Linked DNA regions of Homo sapiens: region 2 is linked to region 1. The links come from fine-mapping of genetic effects on gene expression. A gene starts in region 1. The other region holds a variant in brackets. All regions are shown on one strand. Distances are from middle to middle. Region 1 holds the start of HDC (histidine decarboxylase). Region 2 overlaps SLC27A2 (solute carrier family 27 member 2).

Evidence for each region. PIP is the estimated chance that this variant, and not a neighbour inherited with it, causes the effect.
Region 2: its variant is fine-mapped to the expression of HDC in whole blood (TOPMed, PIP above 0.99).

The regions. Positions count from the first base shown.
Region 1 is chr15:50,261,411-50,271,806 of GRCh38, reverse strand. HDC (histidine decarboxylase) reads left to right here and starts at 6,081. Exons shown (of 12, transcript NM_002112.4): 1 at 6,081-6,214; 2 at 8,400-8,572. The coding sequence starts at 6,184.
Region 2 is chr15:50,202,482-50,212,877 of GRCh38, reverse strand. It overlaps SLC27A2 (solute carrier family 27 member 2), which reads right to left. Exons shown (of 10, transcript NM_003645.4): 3 at 10,233-10,391; 4 at 7,515-7,639. Among named protein-coding and RNA genes, the nearest start is that of SLC27A2, 25 kb to the right of the region's middle. RefSeq lists an enhancer at 1,542-2,121. The variant G/A (reference allele first, on the strand shown) is at 5,318.

The DNA of each region.
Region 1 (10,396 bases):
ATTTAGCACAGCCTCCAAAAATTAGAATTCCACTAGCCCCCTGATCCTACATATCTGGCATCTTAAGAGTCAATAATAGCAAAGTTGAGAGAGGCAGCTTGGTGTGGTGGAAAGAACATGGGTATTGGATCCGATAGCCTTAGGTTCAAATCCTGGCTTCTTCAGTAATTATCTTCTGTAATTTTAGCCAAGTGTTTAATTTCCTTGAGACTCAGTTTCTCGAAGATGAAGTAGAAAATGGCTTTCACCAGGTTGTTGTAAAGACTGAATCAAATAGTGTGCATGAAAATTGCAAGGCATAGTGCTCAGGACATAGTTAACATTCTTAAATATATGTTGAGGAATGGTGTGCACCTGAAAATTCCTATAAAAGCTGCAAATATACATGCCTTTTGATCCAGCTGTTCCACTTCAGGATATCCTTACTCATGTGTGCAAAGCAATTTTTTGTAGAAATGTTTGTAATAGCAAAAGACTGGAAACAACTGAAATGTACACTGCTAGGGAACTGATTACTCTCTGGTATGTCCACGCAATGCAGCTCTATGAAAAAAAGGAGTACGTGTCAAGATATATTAACAAATAAAGTACAGAATATTGTACTGTACTTATCCCTTTTGTGTTTAACAAAAGAAAGAAAAGGAGAAAAATTAGAATATAGTATATATTTGCCTTTATGTGCAAAAAAAGGAAATCACTTTTTGTTTTTTTTGAGACAGGGTCTCATTCTGTCACCCAGGCTGGGGTGCAGTGGCGCTATCACGGCTCACTGCAACCTCAACCTCCCAGGCTCAAGCGATCCTCCCGCCACAGCCTCCCAAGTAGCTGGGACTACAGGCACACGCCGCCATGCCCAGCTAATTTATTTATTTATTTTTGGTAGAGATGGGGTTTCGCGATGTTACCCAGGCTGGTCTCAAACTCCTGAGTTCAGGTGATCCACCTGTCTTGGCCTCCCAAAGTGCTCTGGGATTACAGGCATGAGCCACTGTGCCTGACCTCTTTTCTTCTTGATGTGAAATTCTTCATAGATTAGACAAATTTGCCCATTGTGCAAATATGTTGCAAATATATTTTCTCAGTTTGTCATTTATCTTGATTTTTCTTATGGTTTTAAAAAAATGTGATTGGATTTATGGTTTCTGGCATTGAACCATAGTTATAAATGTATTCTTTACTCTGAGGTTGTCCAGGGAATCTTCTAATTTTCTTAATTTAATTTTCATCTTTTAAAAACAGCTCTATTGATGCATAATTGATATACAAAAATAGCATATATTTACTACTATTTGATGAGTTTGGACATGTGTACACACCCATGAAGCCATCAGTTAACCTGATGGTGGTGATGGTTTCCTGTAATTTTATGCTTCCATTTTTCACATTTAGATCTGACTTTTCTGGAATTTATCTAAGTGCACGATGTGAAAGATAGATACAGCTTATTTTTCTTTCCAGATGGCTATACCTTGTTCTAGGACAATTTATTAAATAGTCCATCTTTTTCTTTCTGATCTGAGATGCTATCTTTATTATATGCTAAATTTCTGTACATGTTTAAATTTATTTGCTCCTTTTGTTTGTCTCTTTGTACACCAGTATCTACCTCATTGTTCTAATTATTCGAGCTTCAGGATACATTTTAATACTTCTGGGTAGGAACAGAACCTTCTCGTTACTCTTACAAAATTTTCTTCTTTATTCTGGTTTATTTTTCCTAAGAACTTTAAAAGTTGGCACTGAATTCCAAAATAGAACACCCAAAAACCTGTTGATTTTTCCACTGGGATTATGTTAAATTTTCGGGTTAACTTAGGGGAAAACCATTATTTCATGATGTTAAATCTTACTCCATGAGAGAGCATGGTACGTCTTTTCATCTGTACAGGTCTTTTTTTATATTGTTCAGTAGCAATTTAAAAAAATCATCCACTATGTTCAATGAAATAAAAGGCCAGATTTAAAAATTTGGCAAGGAGTTGAAAACTATAAAAAGGAACCAAATAAAAATTCTTTTTTTGCCCCCATAAGGCAGAAGAAATACAAATTCTACAACTGAAAAAATATAATATCTGATATTAAGAAATCAATAAATGGTTTATTATATTAGCTACATTTGAAGAGACAACTAAAAAAGAAAAATATTTTCAAACCAACTCAGAAACAAGAAGATGGAAAATAAAGAATACAATGCTATTTATATTTATATATAATAGTATATATAATACACAAGTTTAACATAGGACTGCATTTGCAGAATAGAAGAGAGATAATGGGGAGATAGCAACACTTGGAGAAAAAATAACGAACACTTTTTTATTTAAAGTGCCTAACTTGGCTGGGTGTGGTGGCTGACACCTGTAATCCCAACACTTTGGGAGGCTGAGATGGGTGGATCATTTGAGCCCAGGAGTTCAAGACCAACTTGGGTAACATGGCGAAACCCCATCTCTACAGAAAAACTCCAAGAAATAAAAAACAATAATCATCTGAGTGTGGTAGCACATGCCTGTCGTCCTTGCTACTCAGGAGGTGGGGGTGGCAGAATTACCAGGGCCTGGAAGTCAAGGCTGCAATGAGCTGTGATCGCATCACTATACTTCAGCCTGGTTGACGAGTGAGACCCTGTCTCAACAAATAAAAATAAAAATAAAAATAAAAATGCCTAACTTGGTGCTTGGCACTTTCTAAAATTGACACATAATATTTGTACCTGTTTATGGAGTATATGTGATATTTTGATACATGCATACAATGTGTGTAATGATCAAATCAGGATATTTAAGATATCCATCATCTCAAACATTTTTCTTTGTGTTCAGAACATTCCAAATCTAGCTATTTTGAAATATACAATAAATTATTAACTATAGTCATCCTAATGTGCTATTGAATATTATTGAATTCCATCTAATTATATGTTTGTACCAATTAACCAATCTCTACTTATTCCTCACCCCCAGCTCCCACCAACCCTTTCCAGTCTCTGGTAACTATCATTTTATTCTCTACCTCCATGAGATCAAATTTTTTACCTCCCATATCGTTGTCAATATTATTATTTTTCCCACCCTGGCTCCTAATGAAGGATTTATTGACAATATCACTGGAATCTAAATCCTCTAGGCCATTTTTTCACCAATGCCCTTATTTTCTTAGGGCTTTTTTTTTTCTTAAATCAACAGTTTTATTGAGATATAATTCCCATTCTATAAAATTTCCTCGTTTGAAGTGTACAGTTTAATAGCTTTTAGTATATCCACAGAAGTGTGCAACCATCACCATAATAAATTTTAAAACATTTTCAGCAGGGCGCAGTGGCTCACGCCTGTAATCCCAGCTACTCAGGAGGCTGAGGCAGGAGAATTGCTTGAACCCAGGAGGCAGAGGTTTCAGTGAGCCGAGATTGCACCACTGCAATCCAGCCTGGGCCACAGAGTGAGACTCCATCTCAAAACAAAACAAAACAAAGCAAAATAAAACGAAGCAAAATAAAACAAAACCAAAACCCAACAATTTTGAACATTTTCATCTTACCACCCTGCCAAAAATCCCTGTTCTCCTTAGCCATCAATCTTCAGCTCCCTACCCACTTCTAACCATGAATCTATTTTGTAGATTTGTCTATTCTCGATATTTCATATGAATGAAATAATATAATATATGGTTCCTTGTGACTAGTTTCTTTCACTTAGTATGTTTCCAAGTTCATCCATGTTTTGGTATGTATCAGTACTTCATTCCTTTTTATCATGGAATAATATTCTGTTGTATTGATATACTACGTTTCATTCATTCATCTGAACATTTGGATTATTTCCATTTTTGTCTATTATAATAATTCTGCTATGAACACCCATGTATACGTTTTTGTGTGGACATGATTTCATTTTCCTTGGATATACACCTAGCAGTAGAATTGTTGAGTCATAAAGAACTCTAGGTTTAGCTTTCTGGGGAGCTTCCAGATTATTTTCCAAAATGGCTGTGCCATTTTACATTCCCACCAGTAAAGTATGAGGGTTCTAATTTTTCCCTGTCTTCACCAATACTTGTTGTTATCTATCTTTTTTATTATAGTCATCATAGTCTGTATGAAGTGATTTCTCACTGTAGTTTTTTCAGTAGTAATTAAAAAATTTCCTACCTATTTTAGCCTAAAATTACTTTCCTGACTCTCTTCAAGGAGCCTGCCAGAGAATTCTCTCTCTCGTGCTGTCTCCCTTATGCCTGGGCATAAGCTCTGATAATGCCCTGTCTGGGAAAACTCTTTTGGCCTTCTCAATTTCTATTACATTGAGAGCCCAAGAACCCATGGTCAGTAACAGGCCAATGAGAAGCCTCCTGCATTAGTCTAGGTGAAGGATAATGGTGGCTTGGACCGGAATAGGGTGGTAGTCATGGAAATGGGGAGAATTTGACAGACTAGATTTATTTTGGAAATAGAACTGAATCTGAACAGATTGAATTGGGCAGGGAGCAGGGAAAGTGAAGGGGAAGGAAGACACCAGGTTTATGCCTTCAGCATTTGGGTGGATGAATGGATGGATGAAAGGATAGATGGATGCATGGATGGTGGTTGGATGGATGAGTGGTTGGATGAATGGACGGTCAAGGGGTGAATAGATGGGTGGATGGAAAATGGAGAGATGATGAACTGAGATGGGGAAGACTAGAAGTGGGGCATATTTTTGGGGAAAGACAGTTTTGCAATACGTTAAGTTTGAGGTGCCTCAGAGTCATAAGAGAGGATTTGTCAGAAAGGCAGTTGGATATAAGATTTTGAAGCTCAAAAGACAGGGAGGGCCTGATGGTATGTTTAAACCTATACGGATATCACATAGGTAACATTTCAAGCCTAAGAAATGGGCCGGGCGCAGTGGCTCACACCTGTAATCCCAGCACTTTGGGAGGCTGAGGCGGGTGGATCACTTGAGGTCAGGAGTTCGAGACAAACCCAGCCAACATGGTGAAACCCCATCTCTGCTAAAAACACAAAAATTAGTGGGGCATGGTGGCACATACCTGTAGGCCCAGCTACTCAGGAGGTTGAGGTGGGAGAATTGCTTGAACCCGGGAGGCAGAGGTTGCAGTGAGCCAAGATTGTGCCACTGCACTCCAGCCTGGGCGACAGAGCAAGACTCCGTCTAAACAAAACAAAACAAAAAAAGCCTTAGAAATGGGCAATGCCACCAAAGCAGAAAGATGAAAGGAGGGCAATGCCCTGAGGTGTGCCAGCATTGGAGGAAACAAACAGCCAGAGATGTAGGAGGAAAGCCCAGAGAAACTGTGAGCTGCAAGGATGAAGTAGTAACAAATAAAATGCCACCAAGAGAACCAGAAGGACGACTGGAAACAAATAAACAAGAAAGACTATTGCATTTAGCAACGTGAAAACGTTGGATTACTTTTTACTCAGAAATCAAACCCCAAGGATAGTGTTTCCCCTCCCTACAGGGGTTTCTGCAGGTCCCTTTACACGCCCCCCTTCTACTTCTTTAAGTGCTAAAAGTGATTAATTTGGGGTGATGTTTTAATTTCTATTCTTTTTGGCTTATAACTGTGTTTTTTCATTCTTTGCAACAACAGATAGTATGTTGTAATAGAAAAATCCATTGTGGTCAATGATAACTTCTGCCTGTTCCTGGGCACAGGGGGCATCACTATTAGTGCCTGTTCCTCCCTCCCTACTGCTGATAAGGAAACAGGGGCAGGAATAATACTAATAATTTGTGCTACTTTTTCTGCATACCCTTGGCCTTATTCTGGTCTACTGAGCTGGGAGCTTGTCTGAGGCTGGAGCTCTATTGTCTGAATCCAGGGGCAGAAAGAACTGAGGGCTCTTTTACGGCATCCACCTGGAGGCTGCCTGCAGGCTTGGGTTGCTAAGTGCACTGCTTAATTTAGAAGCGCCTTTTATCCTGGCTCTCTTGACCAGTCAAAGTTGTGGTCGCTGTTTTCTACAAGGACTGGGGAAAGAAAGGGTGGAATTAATTAAACCTGGAGGAAGGGACTTTGAAGGGCGGAGCTAAGGTCAAAGAAAGAACCCTTTAAATAAAGGGCCCACACTGGCTGCCAGGGAGTGCGCAGGACTGGCAAGAGGGAAGCCGGGCTGCTCCACGCCTTTCACGCCTTCCACCTCCTGCGTGTCCATCTGTGAGAAGGAGCCAGAGCCCAAGGGAGATGATGGAGCCTGAGGAGTACAGAGAGAGAGGTGAGCAACGGGCATCCCTGGCCCTCTTCCCTGCTGCTACTCCTGCAGGAACGGCTGCTGGTGGGTGGCCCTTAGATTCTGGGGTGACATTTGATGGGAGCATTAGAATTGCCTTCTGAGAGTTGGCACCAGCAACATTTTTTTTTCTGCGAAAGGAATGTGGGATCAGAGTGTAAAACTTTTCTCAACCACTCTTTCATTCTCCCTCTCATATACCCACTCTCACATATGTCCACACTACCGTGCCTTGCTTTTCCTCCCCACTTTCCCACAAAATTGAGGATTTGGATCCCTGAGCCACTAGATGGGAAAAGGGGATTGTTCATATTCTGAAATAGAAAAAAATTTTCTCAATATTCTGTAATCACTGCAAATCCTTTCTTTCTTAACATTCATTCCTTCATGTGTGAATCTATCAGCAGTGTTCTTTCATTTAGTCATTCATTTCATAAATATTTAGTAGGTGCCTACTCTGTATCAGGCAAAACCAAGTGGTTATCCAGTTCTCAGGCATGGATCTCCCTTAGCAGGAAAGTAGGTAGTTGCTTAAAAAAGAATCTTGAATGTCTATTTCTATAATGTTTTATATCCTCCTACTCACTAATTAGTGTGCGTTAGCTTATTCCATTGCTTTCCTAAGGCACTGTCAGCTGAGAGCAAGTTCCTGTGGATATTTATCTTCTGAGTGGAACACAAATACATTTAGCACTGTTCCTGGATCAGTGGAGGGTTAGGTCTAGAGCTCTCAGATCTCTGGTGGGGCCCTGCTGGAGAAGAACCAGGATGTGAGAGGGTTGAAGGGGAGCAGAAGGAAGATAGAATGGTGTGGAAATCTACCTTTGTCTCATAAGTTTTGTCTGGGGTTGGTTCTGTTCTTAAGAACTTTGCATAAGCTGATGCAGAGGGGAGAAACTGAGTCCCCTCTCCTAGGTAAAAGCAGCCCAGGGAGTACTAAGGAATGGATGTTGAGACAGACAAAGAGATATGTACACACACACACATGCACACACAGCAACAGAGGCACTGAAGACTGCAATCTGAAAGAATAAATAATTTGCAATAGTTTCAGAGTGTTCAACTTGACTTTTTTTTCCTTCCTTACTCATATGTTCATTCACTTGATACATTTTTTTTTAGCATCTAAAAAATATCCTAAGCACTGAGGTGTTGATGGAGGCAGCAGGAGGGAGAGAAAGTCATTAAGATTTGGTGCCACATTTCCCAGGCCAGGGCAGGGGGCTTGGTCTGGATCCATGGTTGTGCTTTAGGGATTCTGTGAGCCTCAGAAATTATACACAAAGTTCTGTGTATATGTAAGCCTACAGTTTTAATCAGATTCTTGAATTAAGTCCTCATATGAGTCCAAAAAAGATGAATAATAACTGATTCAATGGGGATGGTGAAAAAATAGATTTTTTTGTCCTTTATCGGAACTGGGCATGGAATCTTTCTATCTGTGCTAACAGATATAACTGGTGGGTGTGTGTGTAACAATTTTTGGATACAAAGAGCTATAGAGTTTCTATTGAACCTATAAAATAGTTAATAGATGTTCTGTTTCTGAGAAGGAAAGAAAGGTAGGAGAGACAATCAAAATTGAAGTGGATAAAGGAAGGGGAAAGAAAATGAAACGTTTCACTTTGGCGCTAGAGTTTTGTGCTTTGGAGATTTTCCTTTTTGTTCATTTGCTCACTTAGAAACTCCCTCCATCATTCATTCACTCCCTCACTCTTTTTTTAAATTCTGAAGATAAGGTCGTGCAGGGGATCAGATCCTACCCTCGGCCCATGAATCTGTCTCTCTCTTTTTTTTGAGTCCAGGCTGGAGTGCAGTGGCACGATCTCGGCTCACTGCAACCTCCGTCTCCCAGGTTCAAGCGATTCTCCTGCCTCAGCCTCCCAAGTAGCTGGGATTACATGCGCCTGCCACCACGCCCGGCTAATTTTTTGTATTTTTAGTAGAGAGGGGTTTGACCATGTTAGTCAGGATGGTCTTGATCTCCTGACCTCGTGATCCGCCTGCCTCAGCCTCCCAAAGTGCTGGGATTACAGGCATGAGCCACTGTGCCCGGCCAAATCCATCTCCTTCTTTACCAAGTCTCTTGGCCCGGACCTGAGAGGGATGGGCACAAATCGGTCAGGCCCAGTCAGGGGATTTCAGCCTGATTTCTCTATGTCACTTCTAGGGAGAGAGATGGTGGATTACATCTGCCAGTACCTGAGCACTGTGCGGGAGAGACGTGTGACGCCAGACGTGCAGCCTGGCTACCTGCGAGCCCAGCTGCCTGAGAGTGCTCCTGAGGACCCCGACAGCTGGGACAGCATCTTTGGGGACATTGAACGAATCATCATGCCTGGGGTGAGACACAGTGACCACAAGGGCAGTTCTGGATTTCAGGGCACAGAAGGGTGGGTGGTGGCCTGGAGAAAGACCTGCTTTGGGTCAGCTTGGGATGAGAATGCATCCTTCAGCCACTTGGCCACCAACACCCCAGCCCATCTGCTAGGCATGTGGAGGGCAGGACTTTGACTGGTATTAGGTTTCTTTTTCTTTTTTTTTGCCCAGTTGTGCCATGGCATGAGGTTTCTGATGCCAGGGCAGGGCTGGCCAGAACACCTGCATTCCAGAGCACAGCCTGGCAGAAGTGTGGAAGTCTAATGGGATGGGTGGAGAAGTGAACATTTTGTCTGAGGGGAAAGGACAACTGTGTATAGTAAGACAGGGGAGAGGAAGCTGGTGGTAGTGCCTGGCCCTGACGACGGAGCCAGAGACTCTTCTGTACAGTGTCTGAGACCACACCAAAGAGAAGGAAGGAAGTGGGGAACACATCCTGGCAAGGACACGCTGGTGACCAGGTTGCGTTGGCCCAGGAAACTGAGTGGGCCCTGGCAACCCCTCCTGTCCCCTCTGAGGTCTGGTGATTGAGCTGCTTTTCAAGAGCAAGAAGGGACTTTCCCTGAATCATTGATACTTTCCATGATGGAGGGTGCAGCCTGGGATAGTGCTGGTGGGGCCAGGAAGCTGATGGAAGCTGGCTGATGCATGGGCTTGAGCTGGAGCCTGCCTTGATGGGTGGTGGACACCCCTGACCACTGGCGGTGAGGAGCTCTGCCATGGTGCTCATGCTAAAGTGGCATCGACTCCCTTCCTGTGGCGGGGCTCCCTGCCATGTGCCAGCTCTGTGCTGGCCACATGACATGCTATCTAATTTAATCTTCCCAGTGGCCCTGTTTTACAGATGAGGAAACTGCTGATGCTCAGAGAAGTTAACTGTCTTGCCCAAAGTCACAGAATTAGTACCTGGTAGATCCAGGATTTTACCCTAGACCAGTCTTACTTCACAGGCTGTGCCGTTTCTCCTACCCTCTGTCACCTCTACTGGTGGGTGCCTGAATGTGCCTGGCTAAGCCTGGGCCCCTAGCATTGCCTGTCTGGCTCCACACCCCCACACAAGCTGTGTCTTCCCTCTCCCTGCTTGGGGCATTTGTGTTCTGAACCACACATGTTTAGAGGCTCTTCCTGAGGCCAGCTTGAGGTTTGCCTTCATCATTCCCAAAGAACTTTTGACTTCAATGTGACAAAAAGGCCAGGCGCGGGGGCTCACACCTGTAATCCCAGCACTTTGGGAGGCCAAGGCAGGTGGATCACCTGAGGTCGGGAGTTCAAGACCAGCCTGACCAACATGGAGAAACCCCGTCTCTACTAAAAATACAAAATTAGCTGGGCATGGTGGCACATGCCTGTAATCCCAGCTACTTGGGAGGCTGAGGTAGGAGAATCGCTTGAACCCGGGAGGCGGAGGTTGCGGTGAGCTGAGATAGCGCCGTTGCACTCCAGCCTGGGCAACAAGAGCGAAACTCCATCTCAAAAAAAAAAAAAAGTGACAAAAATATGCCTAGAGGCAGGGGTGGGAAAATATTCAAACTCAGAAAGTGATGGCAATTTTGACTTTTTTTTTTTTTTTTTTTTGAAGCAATAGAGACAAGGTCTTGCTATGTTGCCCAAGCTGGTCTCCAACTCCTGGGCTCAAGTGATCCTCCTGCCTCGGCCTTCCAAAGTGTTGGGATGAGAGGCCTAAGCCACTACGCCTGGCCATGAGGGCAATTTCATACAAAGCCACTCATCTCTTTGACCATTCAGCCTATTTCACAAGCATTTTTTGAAAATGTCAATATCAGTAAG
Region 2 (10,396 bases), 59 kb after region 1:
GTATTCTTGTTTTATAGGTCTTGTGTGATTTATACTGTAAAGAGGTTGTGTTATGATGTGTTTGCAGGATTTGTTTCAAGATTTAGAGCTTCTTTTAGCAGGTCTTGTAGTGGTAACGTGGTAATGGCGAATTCTCTCAGCATTTGTTTGTCTGAAAACGACTGTATCTTTTCTTCATATATGATGCTTAGTTTTGCTGGATACAAAATTCTTGGCTTACACTTGTTTTGTTTGAGGTGGTTGAAGATAGGGCCCCAATCCCTTCTAGCTTGTAGGGTTTCTGCTGAGAAATCTGTTAATCTAATAGGTTTTCCTTTGTAGGTCACCAGGTGTTTCTGTCTCACAGCTCTTAAGATTCTTTCCTTGGTCTTAACTTTGGATAACCTGATGACAATGTGCCTAGGCAAAGATCTTTATGTGATGAATTTCCCAGGTGTTCTTTGTGCTTCATGTATTTGCATGTCTAGGTCTAGCAAGGCTTGGAAGTTTTCCTCAATTATTCACCCAAATATGTTTTTCAAGTGTTTAGAATTGTCTTCTTCCTCAGGAACATCAAGTATTCTTAGGTTTGGTCTTTTAATCCTAGACTTCTTGGAGGCTTTGTTCATATTTCCTTATTATTTTTTCTTTGTCTTTATTTATTGGGTTAATTCAAAGACCTTGACTTCGAGCTCTGAATTTCTTTCTTCTACTTGTTCAATTCTATTGCTGAGACTTTCCAGAGCATTTAGCATTTCTAAAAGTGTGTCCAAAGTTTCCTGAATTTTTGCTTGTTTTTTTCATTTACTTTTTTTTTTTTTTTTTTTTGAGACAGAGTCTCACTCTGTCTCCCAGGCTGGAGTGCAGTGGCGCGATCTTGGCTCACTGCAAGCTCTGCCTCCCAGGTTCATGCCATTCTCCTGCCTCAGCCTCCCGAGTAGCTGGGACTACAGGTGCCTGCCACCACTCCAGCTAATTTTTTTGTATTTTTAGTAGAGAAGGGGTTTCACTGTGTTAGCCAGGATGGTCTCAATCTCCCGACCTTGTGATCTGCCTGCCTCAGCCTCCCAAAGTGCTGGGATTACAGGCTTCAGCCACCATGCCTGGCCCTGTTTTTTTCTTTAAGCTATCTATTTGCTTGAATATTTCTCCTTTCACTCTTGTAACGTTTTTTTGGATTTCCTTGCATTGGGCTTCATATTTCTCTGGTTCCTCCCTGATTAGCTTAATAACTAACCTCCTGAATTATTTTTCAGGCAAATCAGGGATTTCTTCTTGGTTTGGATTCGTTGCTGGTGAACTAGTGTGATCTTTTGGGGATGTTGATGAGCCTTGGCTTTTCATATTAGCAGGGTTGGTTTTCTGATTCCTTCTCATTTGGGTAGGCTCTGTCAGATGGAAGGTCTAGGGCTGAAGGGTGTTGTTCAGAATTTTGTCCCATGGGGTGTTCCTTTGATGTAATACTCTCCCCCTTTTCCTATGGATGTGGCTCCTGTGAGCCGAACTGCAGTGATTGTTGTCTCTCTTCTGGGTCTAGCCACCCAGCAAGTCTACCTGGCTCTGGGCTGGTACTGGGGGTTGTCTGAACAGAGTCCTGTGATGTGAATGATTTATGGGTCTCTCAGCCATGGATACCAGCACCTGTTCCAGTGGAAGTGGCAGAGGATGCAATGACTCCATGGGATCCTTAACTTTGGTGGTTTAATTCCCTGTTTTGTGCTGTTGGCCTCCTGCCAGGAGGTGGTACTTTCCAGAAAGCATCAGCTGTAATAGTGTGGACAGGCACCAGCAGTGGGCAGGGCCCTAGAATTCCTAAGATTATATGTTCTTTGTCCTCTGATACCAAGGTGGATAGGGAAGGACCATCAGGTGGGGCCAGGGCTAGGCCTGTCTGAGCTCAGACTCTCCTTGGTCAGGTCTTGCTGTGGCTGCTGTGGGGGATGGGGGCGAGATTCCCAGGTCACTGGAGTTGTGTACCTAAGAGGATTATGGCTGTCTCTGCTGAGTCATGCAGGTTGTCAGGGAAGTGGGGGAAAGTTGGCAGTCACAGGCCTCACCCAGCTTCCAGGCAACCTGAAGGGCTGGTCTCACTCCCACCGTGCCCCCTCAACGGCCCCGAGTCTGTTTCCAGGTGGAGGGCGAGTCAGGCTTGAAAACTTGCCCAAGGCTTTCTGCCTCCCAGCTGTTAAAGAAAGGGCTTTAGTTCTTCTCCGCCTGTGGAGTCTGCAAGCCAGATTCACACCCTCCCTGGAGTTCTGGCCAGGAGTCTTCTTGCCCCGTTCAAATTATCCCAAAGTTTAGCTAGAGAATTCCTTCTCCCTGTGGAGTTTTGCCCCCTGCTCCTCTGGCCACCCTCCTGATGGATCCCTGTGGTGCCAGGCGGGAATGGGCTGCTAGGGGAGCCAGTGAGCTCCCAGGGCCTTTCTGCAGCTTCCTCTACCTTTGTATTTTGCTCGGTTTGGCTCTCTAACTTGACGAGGCTCCAGGTAAAGTCGGGAAGTTCTACAAACAGACCTTCAGCTTCTCCAGTATGTGTTCGGGAGATGAGGGTCTCCCTTTCCCACTTCTGCAGTTGGGGCGATCACAGTATTTGGGGTGTCTCCCGGGTCCTCTAGGAGCAATCCACTTCTTTCAGAGGGTCTGTGGGTCCTCTTGGGGTTGCTGGTTAGTTCTTGCAGTCAAGCTGGAGCTAAAATTCACAATGTGAGCCTCTCATGCTGCTCTGTCTGGAGCCACAATCTAGTCCTGCCTCCCGCTCGCCATGATCCTGTCCTCCGTATTTTACTTCTTACACAGATTTTCAAATAACTCCCCTGTTTTAAGTCTGACACTTCATCCCACCTTCAGCTGTATTCAAAGCCTGCAATTTCTCAGCCTTCAGGAAGGCAACTGGCTTCCTTCCTGTTGGGACTTGCCTCTTAAGTTTCACCCTTCTCAGCCTACTATGTCAGTCACTGTTATCTTTTAGCTTCCTATACTATGTAGTTCATGGTTGCAATGTCTCTTAGTTTCTGAGATGATGGTGCTTGTGTGTGTTTTTCTCATCGCCTTGTTTTGGGGTGACTTCCAAGAGGTGAAAGGGAAGAAGGTCTTTATCACCTTAGAAAAACTCCAGAGTCCCTGTTCTTAATAATTAATATGTTACACTTCTGCCTGGACAAGGCTCCACCTGTTTGCTTTACAGAAGAGGCCCTTCATCCTTCTGTGTATTCTCACATCGTAGCCAAAAGGACTGTCTAAAAATGCCATCTCCCACATTGCTCTTCCATGTAAGGCCCTTTAGTCATGGCTTGTCATGTTCACATTTGAGTCTCAGCAGAGTAAAGCCCTTGCCACCTGACCCAGCCCCTCAGCTTCACCTCCTGCCAGACTGCTTGCAGTTCCCAGTGTGCTGGGTCCTTCATCTCACTGCTCACGTGATTTTCCTGCTAGCCAGAAGCCCTTCTTTTCTTGCCTGGCTGCAGAACTTCTCCGTACTCTTCAAAGCCCACCTTCCCTGGCGAACCTTCCTGATTCTGCTCCCCTTCCCTCTTTCTTTTGGCCTCCCTCTGTCTTGGGCCCCAGTCATATTGGCCACTCTCCACTCTGTGCTGCAACAGATCCATCCATTCTCTTTTTTGAACAGAATGAAGCTGATGCAGAGACAGAAATTTTAGGCTAGAAGGGACCACAGAGGTTATCTAATTCTGGGGGGACGCAGTCAACACTAGAGGTAAGTTGAATCTATTCAGCTTTTTCAGGGTTCTGGCCAATATTATTTCTCCTTCCAAATATCATGGTTCTATGTGTGGCCCCTGGAACTCTTTTTTGGTTCCCTTTCTGTCTTCCTCCTCCCACACTCCAGCAGGTGTCATAAAGCCTCATTGAGACCCCTGTACTGGAGCCTTGTCCAGTACAGACTGTAGCTTCAGTCTGTAACTGGAGGAAAGAAACACTGAGCTTTAGCAATATCATGCTCCAATAAATAACTTTCCCTAGATGACATTGTTTTTAGGCAACTACAAAAACCGAATGGGAGCTGACAACCATACACTGCAAGAAATGAATCAGAATGGCCTTTCATTACAAACAGTCGCTTTGAAAGCAAAGGCCCAAATACAATGCGGGAAGACGGCAAAATAGAAAATATTCACTATAATATTTTAAAAATCACTTAAGTCAGTAGCTTTGCTATCCCATCCCCTACTCAACCTCAGATGAGAGTGATTAACTAAGTAGAATGTTTTCCCTTATTTCTTCCTTTGTGTAAGTGGGCAGAATTTTCATTGATTCATTCAACAAATATGTATGGGGTACTTATTATGAGCTACACACTGTTAGGCATGGAAAGTGATAATGATAATAATGGCAACATGTGTTGAGAATTTACTAAGTTCCAGCTACTATGTGGTTTATATATATCATCTCAGGTTGTCTTCATAGACCCCATGTGAGGTAGGTACTATTATCTCCTTGTTGGCTGACGGGAAGCTGAGATTTAGAGAGGTTAACTATCCTGCTCCAATGCCAGAGTCAGAATGCAGGCCGACTAACTCCAGAGTACTTGCTCTCAGCATTACTTTAAGTACCTGGGGCCAAATCTGAACCACTGACCTGAGCAGGGCTGGAAGCATTCTCCATAGCCCACTGCTCTACTAGAGAAGCTACTGAATATGGTTAAGAAGAGGGCAGAGAAGCACAGTGGCTTCTACCTCCCAACACTGGCCCCAGATTCTCCTGATGAGCTGGGCCATATATGTCTGTGGATGGGTGTCACTTGGTTTAGCTGTTCTGCTAAGGCAGAGGTTGCCTCCCTGGCATCCAGTGCTTGGGGGTCGCTGGTGGGGTTAGTCCCTCCAGCAACAGCGTATTCTAGGCAGCTCTAAGGGTGAAGAAGTTCCTGATTACATTGATCCAGGCCCTTCCCCCATTCATTCTAGTTTTTATCCAATTCTTTTTTTTTTTTTGCAAAGTCTTTTTGATATAATCTTTCCCTACATCCCATACAATCTGTACTTTCTACTTCCTATGATGACCTATGATTAAATTTAAAAAAATTTGCATAGATCTCCTGCTTGTCTAATGACATATGATTGTTTTCTTTCTTTCTTTCCTTTTTTTTTTTTTTTTGAGACAGGGTCTTGTTCTGTCGCCCAGGCTTGAGTGCAGTGGTGCAATCTTGGCTCACAGCAACATCTGCCTCCTGCTTTCAAGCGACTCTCCTGCTTCAGCCTCCTGAGTAGTTGGGATTACAGGCACGTGCCAACAAGCCCCGCTAATTTTTGTATTTTTAGTAGAGACTGGGTTTCTCCATGTTGGCCAGGCTGGTCTTGAACTCCTGACCTTGAATGATCTGCCC[G/A]CCTCTACCTCCCAAAGTGTTGGGATTAGAGGCATGAGCCACCGTGCCTGGACTGATGACCTATAATTTAAAAAAATCTTTAACTGAAGGTTTTTTTTTGAGATAACTTTGATCTTTTATTATACTTTTTATAAATATTTTCCAAACAGAACTCAGGGGTGGGGAAGCACTGGCAAATAGGAAGTCCAGGGGTCATTCAAGATTATGCATTAAATCATAGTATATTTTGAAGTTGTAAAACCCCAGTGAAATTGTCTTTGTTTTCCAGTATTTGAGACAACAGTAAGAGAAAAACTGGGAGAGTGCATGCATGTGTGTATGTGTGCATGTGTATATGTGGATATGTGTGGGCCTGAAGACAGCTACACACAAACATATTTATTTTCGTCCAGTCCAAAGGAAGCTCCCATTAGAACATACAGAAACAACACACACTCCCCAGGAGATTTTCTAACTGACAAAGGAGTGCCTTTAAGGTAGAGAAGAAAAGCCCAGCAGAAGGGTCCCATATGGATTTCTGGATTTTAATAGAGAGACATGCTATCTTGGAGGCCACGTGGAATATTAATGTGAAAAAAATTCAATAATGACATGAACAGAACTGCTGTGGAAAATACCCTAACCCAACTCACTGCTAATGATGATCCTCGAGAATCTATTGAATATGCCAAAAAATCAGAATAATATGTGCTAAGCCCAAACATTTTGGGGAAACATTTTAGCTCCCTCAACTCAACTACACATTTTTCAGGGGCAAGGATTTAGAGGTTCAGTCCACAAAATCTGTTGATGCCTATGATGTGTCATTTACAGATCTTGGTGCCGTAGATCTGGTAGTGGACAGAGCCCCTGCTCATATGCGGCTTTCATTTAATTGGGGCGAGGGGGGGCAGACAATAATCACATAAACCTTTACTATGTCAGGAGTGACAGGTGCCATGAAATGCAGTGACAAGCTGGACAGTGAGGGGCAGATGATATGTTTGATTATTAGCAGAAGAGGCCTGTCTTCTAATGAGGCAACATCTGGGCAGAGACTGAGTAAAGTGAGGTGAGAGAGACCTGGGGGAAGAGCATCTGACACTTCTTTCTGCGTCACACGGCAGCTGGTATGTTAGGTGAGTACAACAGGTGCTTATCAATAGCAATTTATCAACTTAGTGATCCTTTGAGTTTAAACTGACTGAATAAAGGAACTAGAATCTGGTGAAAGGGATTAGAATCTGGTGAGTTTACTGCATTGTCTAGTACAGTGGTTCTCAACTAGGTTAGCATTTCCCTGCCAAGAGACATTTGGCAGTTTCTGGAGACATTTTGATGATCATGACCTGGGGAGGTGGGGAGGTTACTACTGGCATCTCGTGGGCAAAGTCCAAAGGGTGCTAAACACTCTACAATGCACAGAATAAGTCCGCGCGGCAAAGAATTAAAAGCCCAAAATGTCAGCAGTGCCACCATTGATAAATCCTATCTGATACCAGATCTCTGATGAGAGTTGAGGGACTGGGCAGGAGGAGCTCTTGAGAACAACCCCATCGAGAGCTGAACATCTGCAAACAGGGCAGATCCAAGGCCATTGGAGATGCCCTGGGGCATCTGTTCCCAGCTTGGTGACAGACTTGGCTGGCTGGTTTCAAAGTCACACAGAGATTTATTTGTTAAACAGCATTAAGTAAAAGTTTCCTGTATGCCTTCGGTATAACAGAAAACAAGGAGACAAGATGTGGTTCCAGCCATCAAAGATATTACAGCCAAGGAAGGATGGGAGACATGAACACAAACTCCTGCAACATGACAAGGGCCACAGAGGGTAGAAATAAAATGACGTAGGGGAGAAGAGTAATGACTTTTGTTGGAGTGACCCAAATATGTTTAATGTATGAGGTATCATTTGAACTGGGCTTTGACACTGGCTTTTAGTAAGCAGAGGGGGAAATGCAGGATATGCTAGGTGGGGAGTAAGATGTGAAAACAAGTAAAAAGGCAGGAAATAATCATCATCATAATAATAATATTAACTCCCACCTACTAAGTCCCCTCTATATGGTAGGTATAGTGCCAAGTACTTTATCATGATAATTGTATCCTAAACTCAAAACTGATATATGCAAATCAGTTGAAGCCTAGCACAACCCAAAGTGACTTGAATTTCCATCTTACCCATTTCAAAATGATAGTAAAACGGGGGGAGTGTTACCTGTGGTGAGTTGCATAAATACCGAAGCAGTTCACCGATATACTGAATGACAGTGACGTTGTATTTTCTGCAGTCATCCCAAAACTGGCTGGCTGAAAATTTAGTCCGCAAGGCAAGAGTAGCACCTACAGAGAAAGCACAGAAAGTGTCAAGAAAGAAATGGTGGAAAAAATTCTCCCAGTTATGTTTAATTTGTCAACTTTGAACGGTAGAAATTTAAAAATAAATTATATTTGCAAACAAGTATTGAGTACCTTATATTCAAATGCAAAAAATTAGTAAGACATGGTTTTGTTCGATAGGGGCTTCCAATCTATGGAGGAGAAGACTCATACAAAGGTCATTTTAATAAAAGTTAGCTTGCAGTAAGAGATTCAAATGAAGTCCTAAGAGGGAGGGAGGGGAGAGGGAAAGAGATTTCATGCAATATATATATATATTATATTATATATATACTAAATATATGTATAAATAGAGTGAGACTCTGTCTCAAGTATATATATATACACACATACATATATATACACACACATACATATATATTATATATATACACACACACATACATATATATGTATTTTATATATATATATTTGAGACAGAGTCTTGCTCTATTTTTTTTTCTTTTTTTGAGACAGAGTCTCGCTCTGTCACCCAGGCTGGAGTGCAGTGGTGCCATCTCGACTCACTGCAACACCCGCCCCCCAGGTTCAAGTGATTCTCCTGCCTCAGCCTCCTGAGTAGCTGGGATTACAGGCGCGTGCCACCACACCTGGCAAATTTTTTGTATTTTTAGTAGAGAAGGGGTTTCACTGTGTTAGCCAGGATGGTCTCAATCTCCTGACCTCGTGATCTGTACCCCTTGGCCTCCCAAAGTGCTGAGATTACAGGCGTGAGCCACCGTACCTGGCCCGGGTCTCACTCTATTGCCCAGGCTGGAGTTCAGTGGTGAAATCTTGGCTCACTGCAACCTCTGCCTTGTGGGTTCTCGTGCCTCAGCCTCTAAGTAGCTGGGATTACAGGTGGACACCATCATGCCTGGCTAATTTTTGTATTTTTTAAGAAGGGATGGGGTTTTGCCACGTTGACCAGGCTAGTCTCAAACTCCTGACCTCAAGTGATTCGCCCACCTCAACCTCCCAAAGTGCTGGGATTACAGGCATAAGCCACTGTGCCTGGCCCATTCATGCAATATTTTAAATAACTTTGTGCATAAAACAAAGTTTGTGTTAAGTACTTATGTGTAGTATTTTCCACTTGTGGTGTCCTGGTGCTTAAAAAGTTACAGATTTTGGAGCATTTTGGATTTCAAATTTTTGGATTGTGTGTGTGTGTGTGTATGTGTGTGTGTTTGAGCTGCTATAACAAAATAGTACAGATGGGTGGCTTAAACAACATTTATCTCTTGCAGTTCTGGAGGCTGGGAAGTCCCGATCAAGGTGTCTGGTGTCTGGTGAGGGCATTTTTCCTGGTTTGGGGATGGTCATCATCTCCCTGTGTCCTTACATGGAACAGAACAGAGTCAGGAAAGAAGCTGGCTGTCTCCTGTTCTGATAAGGGCACTACCTTTCATGAAGGCACTACTCTCATGACCCAATTACTTCCCAAAGGCCCTACCTGCTAATACCATCATATTGGGGGTTAGGATTTCAACATATACATTTTTGGGGGACACAAATATCCATCCATAACATGCATGCATATACACACACGCATATATGTGTGTGTATATACATATGTGTATATATTTTTATATATACATATATGATTATTTAAAATGAAATGCCACATGAGAGAAAAAGTTGTTTATTTAGCTCAGTCAGAAAGTTACATATAGCTTCCTGGAAGAGTTGGCTATTGAACTTTGCGGTAATGTATACAAGTGACATGAATCCTCCTGGAAGGAGAGAGGATGGCAACTCCAATTTGAATAGTAAAGTCTGAGAAGGAAACAGAAGAGATGGCAAGCCAAGCCAAGCCAAGTATTCTGATGGAGTTGCCATCTTCTCTCCTTCTAGTAGAGCTGAAAAGCTGTGGAAATGGGAGATTACAGAAGAGTGCACACAACTGCAGAAGTTTAAAGCTGATGGAGATTAACATGCAAGTTTCTAAAGATGGAAATGACATGACATAGAATCTAAGACTCAAGTGTCATAACCTAAAATTTTTTTTTTTACAGTCAAGGTCTCACTCTGTCACCCAGGCTGGAGTGCAGTGGTGCAATCACAGCTCACTGCAATCTTGAACTCTTGGACTCAAGCAATTCTTCTACTTCAGCCTCCTGGGTAGCTGGGACTACAGACTTGAGCCACCATGCCTGGCTATATATATATATATATATATTTTTTTTAGAGATGAGGTTTGCTATGTTGCCCAGGCTGGTCTTGAACTCCTGGCCTCAAGCAATCCTCCTGCCTTGGCCTCCCAAAGTGCTGGGAATACAGGTGTGAGCCATTGCACCCAGCCCTAAAATATTTTAAAGGAGTTTGTCTCTTGATATACTGAACAATTATAGCATTACATTATTAGATAGGCAGGCATGAAAAACAGATTATTTTAGATGCTTGCTTGTAATATGTGATTCAAATTGCCTTATTGTTAATGCAAAATTGAAAACTGTTCCTAGCAGACAGCAACGTAGCCAAATTTTGTATTACTGTTCCTTCTGGGAAAATGTAAATGTGCACTCGCCTCCAACATTTTGTAGAAAAAGCTTACCAGCCACAATACATCCGTGAATGCCAATCAGTAGTGCAGCACTGTGGTAAAAGGGCAGAGTGATATAGATGACATCATCTGCCTTCAATCCGCTTACAAAAGTGAGGCCAGTTCCATACCATATGCGCTGATGAGTGATCATGGCTGCTTTTGGAAGACCTTTG